Homo sapiens: one gene and its partners. The protein of the gene in region 3 interacts with the protein of the main gene of each other region in a pairwise test. Each region holds a gene or a part of one and is shown on either strand. Other genes may lie near its edges.

What was found. The genes of interacting proteins can lie anywhere in the genome.
Region 1: the proteins of SLC18A1 (region 3) and SYNGR1 interact in a two-hybrid assay, tested with the Homo sapiens proteins (one large-scale study listed by BioGRID).
Region 2: the proteins of SLC18A1 (region 3) and UPK1B interact in a two-hybrid assay, tested with the Homo sapiens proteins (one large-scale study listed by BioGRID).

What each region holds. Positions count from the first base shown.
Region 1 is NC_000022.11:39,352,124-39,356,865, reverse strand, and holds part of SYNGR1 (synaptogyrin-1), read right to left. Parts: intron 1-4,742. UniProt on the Homo sapiens protein: May play a role in regulated exocytosis. Modulates the localization of synaptophysin/SYP into synaptic-like microvesicles and may therefore play a role in synaptic-like microvesicle formation and/or maturation.
Region 2 is NC_000003.12:119,193,231-119,197,972, forward strand, and holds part of UPK1B (uroplakin-1b), read left to right. Parts: intron 1-988; coding exon 989-1,168; intron 1,169-4,742. UniProt on the Homo sapiens protein: Component of the asymmetric unit membrane (AUM); a highly specialized biomembrane elaborated by terminally differentiated urothelial cells.
Region 3 is NC_000008.11:20,147,885-20,153,170, reverse strand, and holds part of SLC18A1 (chromaffin granule amine transporter), read left to right. Parts: intron 1-2,426; coding exon 2,427-2,505; intron 2,506-3,443; coding exon 3,444-3,495; intron 3,496-5,100; coding exon 5,101-5,164; intron 5,165-5,286.

The DNA of each region.
Region 1 (4,742 bases), on a different chromosome or scaffold from region 3:
TCCAACTATCCTTTTCCCATTTGATAGATGGGGAAACCAAGGCCAGGAGAGCATGGGCCTCTTGCTCCAGTCACACAGCCAATCACTGGCAGAGAGGGTGCAGAACGCAGCCTCAGGTCTCCAGGCCAAGGCACTCCTCTGCGCCTACCCTGCCTCCCCTCCCACCTGACAGCTGGTTCTTCCGGTCTGGGTGCCAAGTGTGGCTCCCTCCAACAGCCCTGCCATCTGCCTCTCCCTTCCTCCCTCCCTCCTCCTCCTGGCTTCTCCTCCTCTCTTCCCTTCCTCTCCCAGCCTCTGTTTTTTCTCCCTGGGGCTCAGGCCCGCCCAACAGCTTTGCACACGCTGCTCATGTGGGACTCCCCACATGGCTGGGGACTCCCTGGAGCAGGGGCCATGGGTTCCGATCCCAGTGACTCCAGTTAACCTCTCTGGGCCTCAGCTTTTCATCTAAGGAGGGGATAACAAAACGCACCACAGCAGACTTACGGCAGGCCTTTTAAACTTGCATTCAGGCCAGGCAAGATGGCTCACACCTGTAATCCCAGCACTTTGGGAGGCCGGGGCAGGCGGATCACTTGAGGTCAGGAGTTTGAGACCAGCCTGGCCAACATGATGAAACCCTGTCTCTACTAAAAATATAAAAATTAGCCGGGTGTGGTGGCGGACATCTACTCAGGAGTCTGAGGCAGGAGAATCGCTTGAATTTGGAAGGTGGAGGCTGCAGTGAGCTGAGATCGTGCCACTGCATTCCAACTTGGGTGACAGAGCGAGACCCTGTCTCAAAAACAAACAAACAAAAATAACTTGCATTTTCTTTTCCTTTCTTTCTTTTTCTTTTCTTTTTTTGAAATGGAGTTTCACTCTTTTAGCCCAGGCTGGAGTGCGATGGCGCAATCTCGGCTCACTGCAACCTCCACCTCTCGGGCTTAAGCGATACTCATGCCTCAGCCTCCCAAGTAGCTGGGACTACAGACGCGTGCCACCACGCCTGGCTAATTTTTTGTAATTTTAGTAGAGATAGGGTTTCGCTATGTTGGCCAGGCTGGTCTCGAACTCCTGACCTCAGGTGATCCACCTGCCTCTGCCTCCCAAAGTGTTGGGCTTACAGGCATGAGCCTCCACACCTGGCCAAAATTTGCATTTTTATAAACTCTCGAGGCCTCCCCAAACCCAGGCCCTCCAATCCCATGTTACAGATGAGGCAACCAAGGCTGAAAGAGGTAGGGGTTTTCCAAGGTCCCGCTCTGATGGCCCTGCTCCTGATGCCCTAGGCTTTCTCAGGCTCTTGAGGCCGCCCCTGGGCTGTCCCTGGACATGAGGAAGTGCCCAAAACACAGCAGAAATCTATCACCTCCCAGCGGTCTCCTTGCAGCTGACCCTGTCCTAGACCTGAGAGAGAAGAAGCGGCGGAGCGGCCGGCCACAGGAGGTGAAGAGGTGAGAAAGACTCCAGGGTGGTCAGCAATAAATAACAAACAAGGGCCGTGGGCCCACCTTCCTGTCTAGGTGACAGGGCTGTGCCCGGTACTGGGAGAGGACAGGCTGGACGTGACCACGCATTTCCAGCCACAGAGCCCTCTCCAAACCAAGCTTCCACAGGAGCTTCCGAAATACCCTTGACCCTCTCTCCAGCTTCCCACTGCCCTCAGAGGAAGTCCAGCTTGTGAGTCTGTCATCCAAGCCTCTCCTGGGCCACCCCTTGGGAATTCCTTCTTGTAGTGACCCGAGCCTCTGGGACAGTGCTTCCCACTCAATCCTGTTCTCGTTATTGGAGCGAGAGTGCCTTGGGGTGGCACTGAGCACTCAGCTGGCACTGAGCAGGGGACTTGTGGAATGAACAAATGAACATCAGAACTGGCCAGAGGTTCTGTCTCTACCCTGGACCCTCTTCCCCAACAACCGCTGGTCCCAGAATTTTCCTGTGGCCCCATGGCTGGCACATGGCAAGTTGGTTGGGGGAGGCAAGGGGTCTTATCTTGAAACTGCTGTGTTTACAAAAAACGTTCAGCTTTTTTTTTTTTTTATTTGAGACAGAGTTTTGCTTTTGTTGCCCAGGCTGGAGTGCAGTGGTGTGATCTCAGCTAACTGCAACCTCCGCCTCCCGGGTTCAAGCGATTCTCCTGCCTCAGCCTCCTGAGTAGCTGGGATAACAGGCGACCGCCACCACGCTCAGCTAATTTTTGTATTTTAGTAGAGATGGGGTTTCACCATGTTGGCCAGGATGGTCTCGAACTCCTGACCTCAAGTGATCCACCCGCCTTGGCCTCCCAAAGTGCTGGGATTATAGGCGTGAGCCACCTCACCTGGCCAAGTTCAGCTTTTTTATTCAGTGTTCACTTGGGATGATGGGGGGTGGAGTGGAGGGGGTGAATAAAACCAGGGGTATGAAGCTGCCCCCCTCAGGCCACCCCTTGGTGCCATGGATATCCAGGCAGAGAACCCACAGGGAGTACACAGAATGTGGAGCCCAGCAGTCCGGGTTCAAACCAAGTCTCTGACAAGCCCAGGCCTTGAGCTAGCACAAGTCACTTCTCCAGGCTGAGCCTTAATTCTGTCATTTGTAAAACGGGGGGAAGATACCCACCCCACTTACAGAACCATGTGGTATTATGGCCAAAGCCCTTAAAAAATGAACCCTGAAAATGGCAACATTTCAAACATTTTATCATTTTCATTTTGTCAAAGTAGAGAATTAAAGAAACATTGACTGGGCACGGTGGCTCACACCTGTAATCCCAGCACTTTGGGAGGCTGAGGCGGGTGGATCACTAGGTCAGGAGTTTGAGACCAGCCTGGCCAAGATGGTGAAACCCCGTCTCTACTAAAAATTTAAAAAGTAGCTGGGCATGGTGGTGGGTGCCTGTAATCCCAGCTATTTGGGAGGCTGAGGCAGGAGAATCACTTGAAACCAGGAGGCAGAGGTTGCAGTGAGCCAAGATCGCGCCACTGCACTCTAGCCTGGAGACAGAGCGAGACTCCATCTCAAAAACAAAAAACAAACAAACAAAAAACTCATCTGCCAGCACTGATATTCATTCCCTATAGTCCATCTTAGCCCCCTGCAAAAAAGAATATAAACTCCAAATAAAAGGTGGTCCTTTCTATTAAATCAGTTTAGCTTCTTGCTGTAACTCCTTTTTTTCCCATCTGGCTTTAGAACAAAGAAATGAGTCACTGACAGGCGGCAGTCACCGCGCAACAGATCAGGCACTTCTGACCCAGCCCAGCCCAGTTCGGGTGGGAAGACTGAGGCACAGAGGGTGGGGAGGGGACACTTACTGAAGGTCACAGCTGTGGCCTGGGGGTGCCAGGAGTGGCAGCTGATCTGCCACTGGGGCGATGACACCAAGAGGTGAGAAAGCCTTAGTCAAGAGACAAGCCATGCCGGATGCAGTGGCCCACGCCTCGCCTCATCGTCCCAGCTGCTCACAAGGCTGAGGTGGGAGGATCACTTGAGTCCAGGAGTCTGAGACCAGCCTGGGCAACACAGCAAGATCCTGTCTCTAAAAAAATAAAAAAGAGACAAGCCAGGTCTTGGAGGCCCTGCTTCTGTGCAGGCTGACCCAGGGGCTCAGAGGGCTTGGGTTCCAGGGTGGGTCCAGGTTGGTGAGGCCCTGAAGCTTACATGATTTGGGGGCCCTCTTTTGGAAAAGCAACAGAAAAAAAAATCTTTCTTTTACAAATTTTACAAAAATCCCAGGTCCAGGCCGGGTGCGGTGGCTCACGCCTGTAATCCCAGCACGTTGGGAGGCCAAGGCAGGTGGATCACCTGAGGTCAGGAGTTCGAGACCAGCCTGGCTAACATGGTGAAACCCCATCTCTACTAAAAATACAAAAATTAGCTGGGCGTGGTGGTGTGTGCCTGTAGTCCCAGCTACTTGGGAGGCCGAGGCAGTAGAGTTGCTTGAACCTGGGAGGCGGAGGTTGCAATGAGCCGAGATGGCACCATTGTACTCCAGCCTGGGCAACAGAGCAAGACTCCATCTCAAAAAAAGAAAAAAAACAATCACAGGTTCATGTGCACATGCTGTTAGGGCCCCTCCAGGGCTGTGGTAGGGGTCTGGGTTGTCCAGGAGTCCTGGACAGGGTGACAAATTGTCCCTGTTTGTCTGGACTAAGGGCCTCTCAGAATGCTAAAGGCAGGAAGTTCCAGCACACCAGGATAAACGGGTCACCCTGGTCCTGGAGCTCAGCTTCACTTGCTCTGCCCTGTGGTGTGAGGGCCAAGAGCAGGCGCCAGCTGCATCCCCCGCAGCTCCTGATGTGTTTAAATGGCTCAGCACGCCACACAGTTTCGAAAAGACCAGAAGGAGACAGCACCCTATTCACTGCAGCCCTCCCTAAGTGGTGGTATCACATGATTACCACCCCCCACCAAACTTTTTCTGTTGTGGTAAAACACACGTAACATACAATTTACCATCTTCACCATTTCAGTGGTGTTAAGTACATTCCTACCGTGCAACCATCACATGTGATTTTTATACTTTCCAATAATTGGCAGGTATTACTCTGATCAGGAAAAAAAGCTACTTTTAAAGGTGTCAATCAGCCTGTATCAGACACCTCTTGGTTCGACAAAGGTAGTGAGCGCCTTGTATCCACGTGTGTGAGCAGGACTGGGAGGCTGTGGGGTCGTTTGAGCATTGGTTGGTCCAGGTGACCTTTGTGTCCTTTCCAATCCTGACATTCCAGGATTCTGGATTCTTCCCTGCCCCAGGGGGAGAACTACTCTTTGGAGAC
Region 2 (4,742 bases), on a different chromosome or scaffold from region 3:
TAGTTTGAAATAAGCCTGGCTTAGACTTAACCATTTTTCCCAGAATGCAGAATAATTATTTTTCTTGGTTAGATATTTCCCATAACATAGTGACAAAATTGTATATCCTTTAAAGATGGTTGATTTATCATCAAGTTTACTTGAATACATTCATTCTAAAAGTTCCAAGATACCCATGGTTTTAACTTCCTCCCTTTTGAAGGATTTTAGGAGAATTGATAACAAAGAAGGAAAGCTATATGAATTGTGTTTTGTCCTCTATTCTCAATTCTATCCAGAGTGTAAGGGATGTATTAATTGGTCTCCCTCCCCTATGTGGAGACATAGCTCTGTGTCACCAGGTTATTTTTTTCACTTTATTTTCTCCCATTATAAAAATAATACCTAATTACTCTAAAAAATGTTTAAATGTATAGAAAAGCAAAACAAGAACAATTACTCATAACTTCACCACTAAAATTTTTAATTTTATGATTCTCAATTTGCTTTGATATAATCTTTAATTTTATGATTCTCAATTTGCTCTGATATATCAGAATAATTATTCCTCTCTCACATTGTTATATCAATATATTAGTACAGTATCAATCATAATTAACATTTATTAAGAGTTTACCATAAGCCAGGCACTGTATTGAGCACATTAAGTATATTAACTCATTTAATCCTTAAAAAAACTCTATGAGATAGGTACTATATTCCAATTTTACAGTTAAGGAAACTGAGGCTTAGACAGTTTAAGTAACATGTCAATGGCTACAGGGTTCACTAATGACTAGTAAAGTAGGAAGTGTAAAAATTCTTTTACAAACTGTAAAATGTAAGTTGTAAGTTATCAATACCTTCAGCTGTCATTTGGGGATTTCTTAGTAAATGTAAGATATGGTACACTTTCCGTATCTTCTTTCTCTATAAAATTTCAGTTGCTACATTGATGGCTCTAGTAGGGACCACGAAAGAGAATTTTGTATCTCTCATCTGCTGACAGGACAATTGCTGTGGCGTAAATGGTCCATCAGACTGGCAAAAATACACATCTGCCTTCCGGACTGAGAATAATGATGCTGACTATCCCTGGCCTCGTCAATGCTGTGTTATGAACAATCTTAAAGAACCTCTCAACCTGGAGGCTTGTAAACTAGGCGTGCCTGGTTTTTATCACAATCAGGTGAGTCCTCTCTCCTCCCAAGACTTCCCAGGAGGTTCTGCTGCTCTTTATGAGAAAAATATTGGTCAACTGTAGGAAATAGTCTTTCAGTAAGGAATTCTACATTCTTTTCCCTAAACCTCATGTTAACTATTTCCTTCTCTGTTAATAAACTGCAAATGCTAAACCAGGACTGATAGGGGCAAATTTACATTTTAATAAAATTAACAAAACATGAGAATTGCAATAGCAGAACCCAACTTTGTTTAAATGAAGACAATTTGCACAATGTATGGAATTGGTATGTCAAGAAATATTTACATTAAACAAAGTTTTGCTCTAGTTTTGCAAAATGTAAATTGGAAGGGATGATGTGCAAAAAGAATGTTTTGCCAATTCCAAAGCAATGACTATTGCTGAGGATAAATGTAGTAATTACACATCCACATTCCTTATTCAATGGTAAAGTAGGACAGTCTTAATAAACATTAGGTTGGTGATTTGGATGGAAGGTAGTTTACATACAGATAGTTTTTGAAAAAGTTTCCAGGCTGATGAGGATAATGTGATTACGATCATGAAAACTAACATTTATTGTGTACTTACTAAATGCCAAACACTGTTTCCAGTGCCACACATACACTATCTCCTTTAATGCTCAGTAGTAGGTGCCAGTAGGATCCCTGTTTTACAAACGAAGAACTTAGACGTAGAGATACTAATAAATACCTTGCTGAGGTCACACAACTAGTAAATGTCCGTCTTTTCAAAAAACTCTCTGGCTTTTGAAACATGAGTTTTCTGCCTTCAAGCACAGACTCTAAGCCAGTGAAGACTTGTTAATATTCCCCAAAAGCCCTGATGAGAACCTCCAGGTACTTGTAGTCAGCATCTGCTGACCCTGTACACTGAAACGCTGTGCTCTGCTCAGGGAGTTACCTCTTTAAGGAAAGCTAGTTGTGTACCAGCTCATTAAATAATTGAGAAATGTCAGGCTGTTTTGTTTGGGAGCAGTACAAACTGCATGTTCAGATTGAGGGACATGGCACTGTTGCTGACAGGGTGCCTGGACTAGAACTGGATGCATTATTCCAGAAAAGGGCATGGGAGTGTTCTAGATTATTTTGCAGCAGTGTCCAGAGCAACCCTCATTGAGCTTTACTGCAACATTGTCTGGCATTGTTTTAATCAATTATATTCAGACTGTTATTAAAAATTAAATTTGCTGCTTATAATCAAGGTGTACAATATAATTATTCTCAGGACTATAAAAGGCTTTTGATATTTCAACACTGGAACTGCTCATGCAAACAAATCTTGATTGGATTGTAATTGTGTACAAACTGTATTACCTCTTTGAAAGGGATAAAAATAGGACATTTGTCTTCAGATAACCAGTTTATTTCATAGTTATACCTTTTTTCCTAGCACATATAATATTTTAGTTATGAGGACAAACCTGAAGCTTTTCTCAAGTTTAGATAGATGAGAAATTGAGGAAAAGATACAAATGAACTATTTTCCTCTACCTTGGGACCTCCACACCCATTTTGACAATGCTTCTAACACGTTCCCTTACAGTTCCCTGGCCTCATCTGTTCTAACAATTCCACCTCCACTACCCTACAGTTCCCTGGCTTTATCTGTTCTAACAACTCCACCTCCACTACCTACCAACTACAAATTCATCATCACTCAGCCCTACTCCTCCACCAAATTCCTGAATTCTGAAATTCCTCTCTCTGTTCCTGACTTCCTGTGCTCCTTGTTTCTCAACCTCACTCATTCTGCTCCTTTGACATAATCTCTTATCTATTAGTCCTTTCTGATTCTCCCTAGCCCAGCCTCCCAGATTCCCACACACCACCATTCTCCCTGACTCATAGGTCTTGCTAAGTCCCCTCTTGCCATCCTTTTCCACCAAGAAAAAGGTGCTACCCCAAGACCTGGTATACTTTATTTCTATTATTGCATTCACTACCTGGAACTATATTTGTTCCCAAGTCTATTTTTTCTGAGTCTCCTTGAGGACTATGTATTATTTGATTCTACAGATTTGATATTTTTAGTACTTAGCATAATGCCTGGCACAAAGCAAGCACCGACGTTTGATAGATGGGTGAATAAAGAAGTGAATAGTGAATGGTTTTTCTTTTTCTTTTTTTTTTTTTTTTTTTGAGATGGAGCCTGTCTCACTCTGTCGCCAGGCTGGAGTGCAGTGGCGCTATCTCGGCTCACTGCAACCTCCACCTCCCAGGTTCAAGTGATTCTCCTGCCTCAGCCTCCCAAGTAGCTGGGACTACAGGTGCACGCAACCACACCCAGCTAATTTTTGTATTTTTAGTAGAGATGGGGTTTCACCATGTTGGCCAGGATGGTCTCGATCTCTTGACCTTGTGATCCACCCACCTCAGCCTCCCAAAGTGCTGGGATTAAAGGAGTGAGCCACCGTGCCCAGCCTGGTTTTTGTTTTGTTTTGTTTGAGAGACAGGGTCTCACTCTGTCACCCAAGCTGGAGTGCCATGCTGCAATCACAGCTTATTGCAGCCTCAAGCTCCTGGGCTCGAGTGATCCTCCTTTCCACCTCAGCCTCCCAACTAACTACAGGCATGTACCACCAGGCCTGGCTAATTTTATTTTTTGTAGAGATGAGGTCTCACTGTGTTGCCCAGGCTTCACTTTTTGACAACCATATTGTAGGTTTTCAGGATCTACAATGCACAAATGTGCTGCTATAGCTGTGAAGACTAACAAAATTAGGGAAGTCACTATAAGCTTGTTAATAGTAGAAATTAACTAGAATTTCACACAGCATGTCAGATGCAAATATATATATATTCTATGTTATGGTTTATGTGACTCAGAAATGCTATGTGCAAATTGTGATCACTATACCTCAAAAATGTTATAATAAAATGAAGGAAGATCAAGTAAAGTACCACTAAATTGACTAGCATCACGAAAAGGCACTAAATGATGGTGAAAAAAATGGGGCTTCTGTCTGTGAGCTTCATGAAGGCAAGGCCCATTTCTGTTTGCCACAGCTAAATGCCCAGCCAGTACTTGGCACCTGGCATAAGTGGGCCCTTATATATATATTATTAGATGAACGACCACCTCCCAGGATTGTTGGGAGGACCAAGGAGTAGCAGATATGGGAGTGTTTTGTGAACCATCAAGTGTGTTGCAAATTATACTATTGTAAACATTAATGTTCCATTCATTCTGTAAATGTTTATTACGTGTCTACTATGTGCCAAGCACTTGTTCTAGGTTCTAGAAATTCAACAGTGAACAACATAAAATCCCTGCCCTCATGGAGCTTGCATTCTAGCATGGGAGACAGAAAATAAACATGTTACCAAACAAATACATGATAAAATTCCAGGCCCAAATAGGCCATGAGCAGAAATAAGGCAGGGTGAGTATATAGAGTAGGATGGAGAAAGGGTCTTTTTCTCTGTCACTGTCAGGAAAGGCTTTGTTGAGATGATATTTGCAGAGGTTTGAATTAAGTGAGAAAATGAGACACCGGAAGATTGGGGAGGAAAGTTCTACAAGAAAGGAGTTGTGAGTGCAAAGGCCCTTAAGTGGG
Region 3 (5,286 bases):
AAAGTGGGTTTCACATTGTCCAACAATCTTTCTCTAAGCCCCTAGTTATGTCCTCCTTCTTCTTTTCCAAAATGACTATTTTATATTTCTTCATTTTAGCCCCATATGCACTCCCGTCCCTTCACCATCATCATTCTCAGTGGTTGACTTTGCCTCCTACTCATTGAGAAAACAGAAGCTATGATAAAATGGAAGCAATGAGAATGGAACTGTCGTGTTTCCATCACTAAGTGTACCCAATATCCTGCATCTGAACCCACATTCCCAGTCTTCTCTTTAATTATGGTTGGAGCATCCCAGCCCTGATCAAAGGCCAGACTCCTCTTCTCGATTCCATCTCCCCTCACCTACTTCATTGGCTACTCCTCATCTCCTGTGCTATCTCTGCCTTCTTTGCTAATGTCTAAAGATAGGAGTCCCCCAAGGCTCAGTCCTTGGATCTCTATTCTTTATTTGTTCTTTCATAGGCAATCCCATCCATTTGCATGGCTTTAAGTATCTAACTGCCTGACAGCTCTGCTTGAATATCTACCAGTCACTTCAAACCTCTCACGTTCCCCCCATGCTCTTGCACTTCAACCAGTCTTCCCTATCTCCAGCTACCCAATCGATTAAGACAAAAACCTAGGTTATCCCTGATTTCTCACTTCCCCTCCTCACTCCCGCTATGTCTTTACCCAATCAAACAGAAAATGTCACCAACTTACCTCCAAAACCTACCATTTTGTTCACTTCTCTCCACCATGACTTCTAATCTGAGGCACCATCACTTTTCTCTTGGATTCTGCAAATAGTCTGACTTCCACTCTTGTCCCATGAACCCATTCTTCTAGGGGATTTTAGAAAATATAAATCCAATTATGTCATTTCCTTCCAAAGCTTCCATTGCCCTTGGAATAACCAGATTCATTTCTAGGACCTTCATTTTCTCACCCTCCACTTTCCTCTTATATTTCAGGCACACAGATATCCTTTCTATTCTTAGAGCAAACTAAATGATTTCTTTAAGACATCTTAATTTCCATTAGGTGCTTTTTATTTTCTGCTTGAAGTGCTCTCTTTTGGTTATTAAGGTCTCAGTTTGAATGTCACTTCCCCAAAGAAGCCTTCCCCAACCCTGAAATCCCAGATAGCCCTTCTGAGTTGCTCTGCTATATCACCACATTAAATTTCATGCACATAACTCAACACTTTTCAAAATTATCTTTTTTGTGTATTTGTTTACTTGTTCATTGTATGTCTCCCTCCCCTGGAGTGTAAGCTAGCTGAGGGCTAGAATTTTGTTTGTCTTATTCACCGCTGTATTCCCAGCCCCCAGAATACCTGACACATGGTCAAAGTTTGTTAAAATGAATGAATGAATGAATGAATGAATGGAAGAGACTCAGACAGGTTAAGTAAATTGTCCAAAGTCACAGAGCTAACAAGTCATCAAGCCATGGTTTGAATGCAAAATTTGGAGCTTTGTGTGGCTCCAAAGCCCATGTTTCCTGAACACTTCCCTCTACTGTCACAAAAAGCCATGTGTTCAGGACTTCAATTTACAAAATACTTTTGCATGCATTACCTAATTTGCTCCACATTGTAACCCGGTATGATATAATCATAGCTTTGCTTTTTCCAGATGTGGAAACCAAGGCTCAGAAAGGTTTAGTAATTAATCCAAGATCCCTCTCAGAGAAATAGAAGGGCTGGTAAGTAGCAAGGCAGGAATTCACTTCCCAGGAATTATGTATGGGTATGTGGCACCCAACCACACCACCTCTGAAGCTCACATTCTCACGCTGATAATCAAGGGTATTTTATACATGAGAACGGCTCATCAGGGCCATTCATTAGGAATCTAAGTGGGGAGCTGGAAGCACATTAAATGTACTGAGGCTAGGCCAGGTGTGGGGGCTCACATCTGTAATCCCAGCACTTTGGGAGGCCAAGGCAGGCAGGATTTCATGACCAGCCTGGGCAACATGACGAGACTCCATCTCTACAAAACAAACAAACAAACAAACAAACAAAAAAAAAACAAAAAAAAACAACTAGGTGTGGTGGTGTTCATCTGTAATCCCAGCCACTTGGGAGGCTGAGCTGGGAGGATCACTTGATCCCAGGAGGTCGAGGCTGCAGTGGGCTGAGATTGTACCACTGCACTCCAGCCTGGGTGACAGAGTGAGGCCCTGTCTCAAAAAAAGAAAGAAAACAAAAAGAAAAGTACTGAGGCTAAACAAAGCCTTGCTCCTGAAGAAAGGAGAGGTGTGGGGGTCCTATGGCAACTACTGTGGGTTTGCACAAAGGTCCCCAGATCATAAAACAAAGTGGTTTGGGGATCTTGGAAGGTTACAGGGGTGGACTTCAGTGTCTTGTACGAGACAAGGCATTTTAGAGTAAATTGGACATGTCCTAAGGTAAGGATCTGTGTCCTTCCACAGGTCTAGCTTTCTTGCCTGCCAGTGTGTCCTACCTCATTGGCACCAACCTCTTTGGTGTGTTGGCCAACAAGATGGGTCGGTATGTAGCCTCGGGATCTGGGACGAACAGTAGAAATGTAAGATGGAAGAGCGCCCGTTCCTGATCTTGGAATGATGAACAGCTTCCATACGGTTGAAAGTTTAGGATGAGTACACACCGATAAAAACTTCCCACTGGGAGGATGGGCAGTGAGTGAGTGGTGAGGGTGGTATGGAGAATGGATTGTCCTGAGCTCTGAGCTGATTGTTATAGAAGAGGCAGTGGATACATGAGGGGCACCCCTTACTTTCCATCCATTTGCTGTCCAGTTGAGGAGATAAAATAACCACAACAGAGAACAGCTATGAAAAATGCAGTACTTTGGGAAAGTAGTTTTCAAATTATGTTCTGTGGAATCCTAAGGAGTTCTATAGAGGCACCCCAGAGGCCACTGAGGAGGAAGGGTTGGGGGCCAAGAGCTATGAGTCTCCATTCTGTCCCTTCACTACAATAAGGACAGCTTTAATTTTATCTTTGGAGTTTAGCATCAAGATTTTAGAAGCACTGCCATAGGACATCAGAGAAGGAAAGAAGTTTGGTACTTTCTGTGTTTTTTGAGACAGACCTCAAGGACCAAATAAAATAGGACAGGTAGGAGGCAGTCTGAGCTGGGCAACAGCATGAGTTAAGTTTGAGGGCTACTTCTAAGGAACAAGTGCCTCCTGAGTCAGCTGATTCCTCCTGTAAGGGAAGGAAGAGTGTGTCCCACGGCACCTCCTCTGCCTTTCTATAGAAAAAGGGATGGAGCCAGGGGAGACAAGGAAAGGGCAGGGAGAGAGCTCATTTGGGTACAAACTGGTCATGTAGGGATGCTGTCCTCAGGTCCTAAGGGGTTGCTGGGATTAGGGCTGGTGGGACAGGTCAGCATGGCGGTGATGGGGTACAGGTGGAGGGGAGCTCTCCCCTAGTGGTGTTTGATGATGGCTTTTTTCTTCCAGGTGGCTGTGTTCCCTAATCGGGATGCTGGTAGTAGGTACCAGCTTGCTCTGTGTAAGTATAAGAAGACCTGGGGGAGGGGAAGGAGAGAGAGAGCGAGAGACAGACAGACAGAGAGAGAGAGAGAGAGAGAGAGAGAGGGAGAGAGAGAGAGAGAAAGACACAGACATTTAAAGACTAATTTCCTTTAAGATGAGCAGAGATGGCTTGGCAAGGACTGTCAGAAAGACTGTTTCTGAATAGGCAGGAATTTAGCACGGGGGAAGAGGCCACCAGCTGCAGTGGCTTTCCTTTGAGGGGAAGTGGGAAAGGAGAGGAAGAGGGCTGTAGGGCAGCTGGAGCCGGAGGTCTGAGGCTGTACATGTGGGCATATGAAGTGATACATGTTGGTATCCATTTCTGGGGATGGCAAAATGGTGCGTTTTATGACTTCATTTACTCATCCCACCCTGACAGAGCCTCATAAATCCCCAGGGAACCATCATCTATGTCCCAGTCTCTGGCACCAGAGGCTTGATAGAAGAAGAAAGAAAGAAGGACTTTTCCATTTCCAAGAATCCCCCTCAAGTTCTCAAAGCCTTCATTTCCTCCTCTCCCCAGTGGGGATGAGAAACACACAAACCTCCTAGGCCTGAGGGAGAGAAGAACAGGGCTACAAGGCACTGTAAACTGTGCTCAAGACCAGCTGGAGGTCCTGAGCAGGAGCATGGGATCCGGGTTCCATGGCAGGTTTTGCCACTTTCTATGCATGTGACTTTGAGCAGGTTACTTCATCTCCGTGTGCTCAGCATCCTCATCTATGTAGAGAGGGTTCTGATGGTGTCCACAGGGTTGTCAAGGTAATCCAAATAAACCACAGTGTCTGGCACATGGTGAGCCCATAGTGAATCTCAGCCAATACTATTGATAATTTATAAACATTTCTTGAGGCATGAACCCTAAAAATTGTTATCAGCCAGCAGCATCTAAACGGTATGCTAAACCCTTAAGGGGTGAGTGTCCTGGGGTAGCAGGTTTGAATGGCAGGTACCCAGAGAGGGAGGTAAGGAACCTGAAAAAGAGGGAAGAAGGGGTTTTTGTTGGGGGATTGGGAGGGCAATGGGAATGAGTCTCACAAGCTTCCTGACAGGGGACCCAAGCCACACCACCTGCCCCCTCTAGCTTACAGCTAACTGGTTGTTGGGGCCTCTTCTCTATCTTCTTTTTCCAACAGCTACCAAGTTAGAAGTCTAAATGAAACCTTTCAGTGATGTCCATAATGGAAAACAGAGGCAACTTTATTCCATGAAGAATGAGACCAGGAGTGTATGTTTAGGTGAAGAGGGGTAGAGGAAGGGGAGAAAGTATCCATGGAACAGAGGAAGACCCTCGTTAGAGCATAATGGAGCCAAGTCTGAGGTCCAAACTTGATCTTGCCACTCATTAGATCTGTAACTCTGGATAGAGCAATAAATAAACACAACAGCGCTGGTCAAGTTTTCATATCCTTAAAATGGAGGTATAGATTCTTTTCCATGAGAAAGTCTGAGAGTGCAGGAGGATGATGTATGTGGCCAATAGTGCACTCTGAATAAATGCATTTCATGTGAAAACTCTTTGAACCTTGCTCCCACCTGACCCATCTGGAGTCCTGATGACTCTTCCTCCTTCCCCATGCAGGTTCCTCTGGCTCACAATATTTTTGGTCTCATTGGCCCCAATGCAGGGCTTGGCCTTGCCATAGGTAAGAAGTGCCCTCAAAGAAAACAATAAGCCCCTGCATGTTGGCTTTGGGTCTGATGCCTTTCCTCCCCCTTTTCTCATCAGAGGAGGTAGGTGCAGAGGCAGAAGGATCAGGAGGGCAGC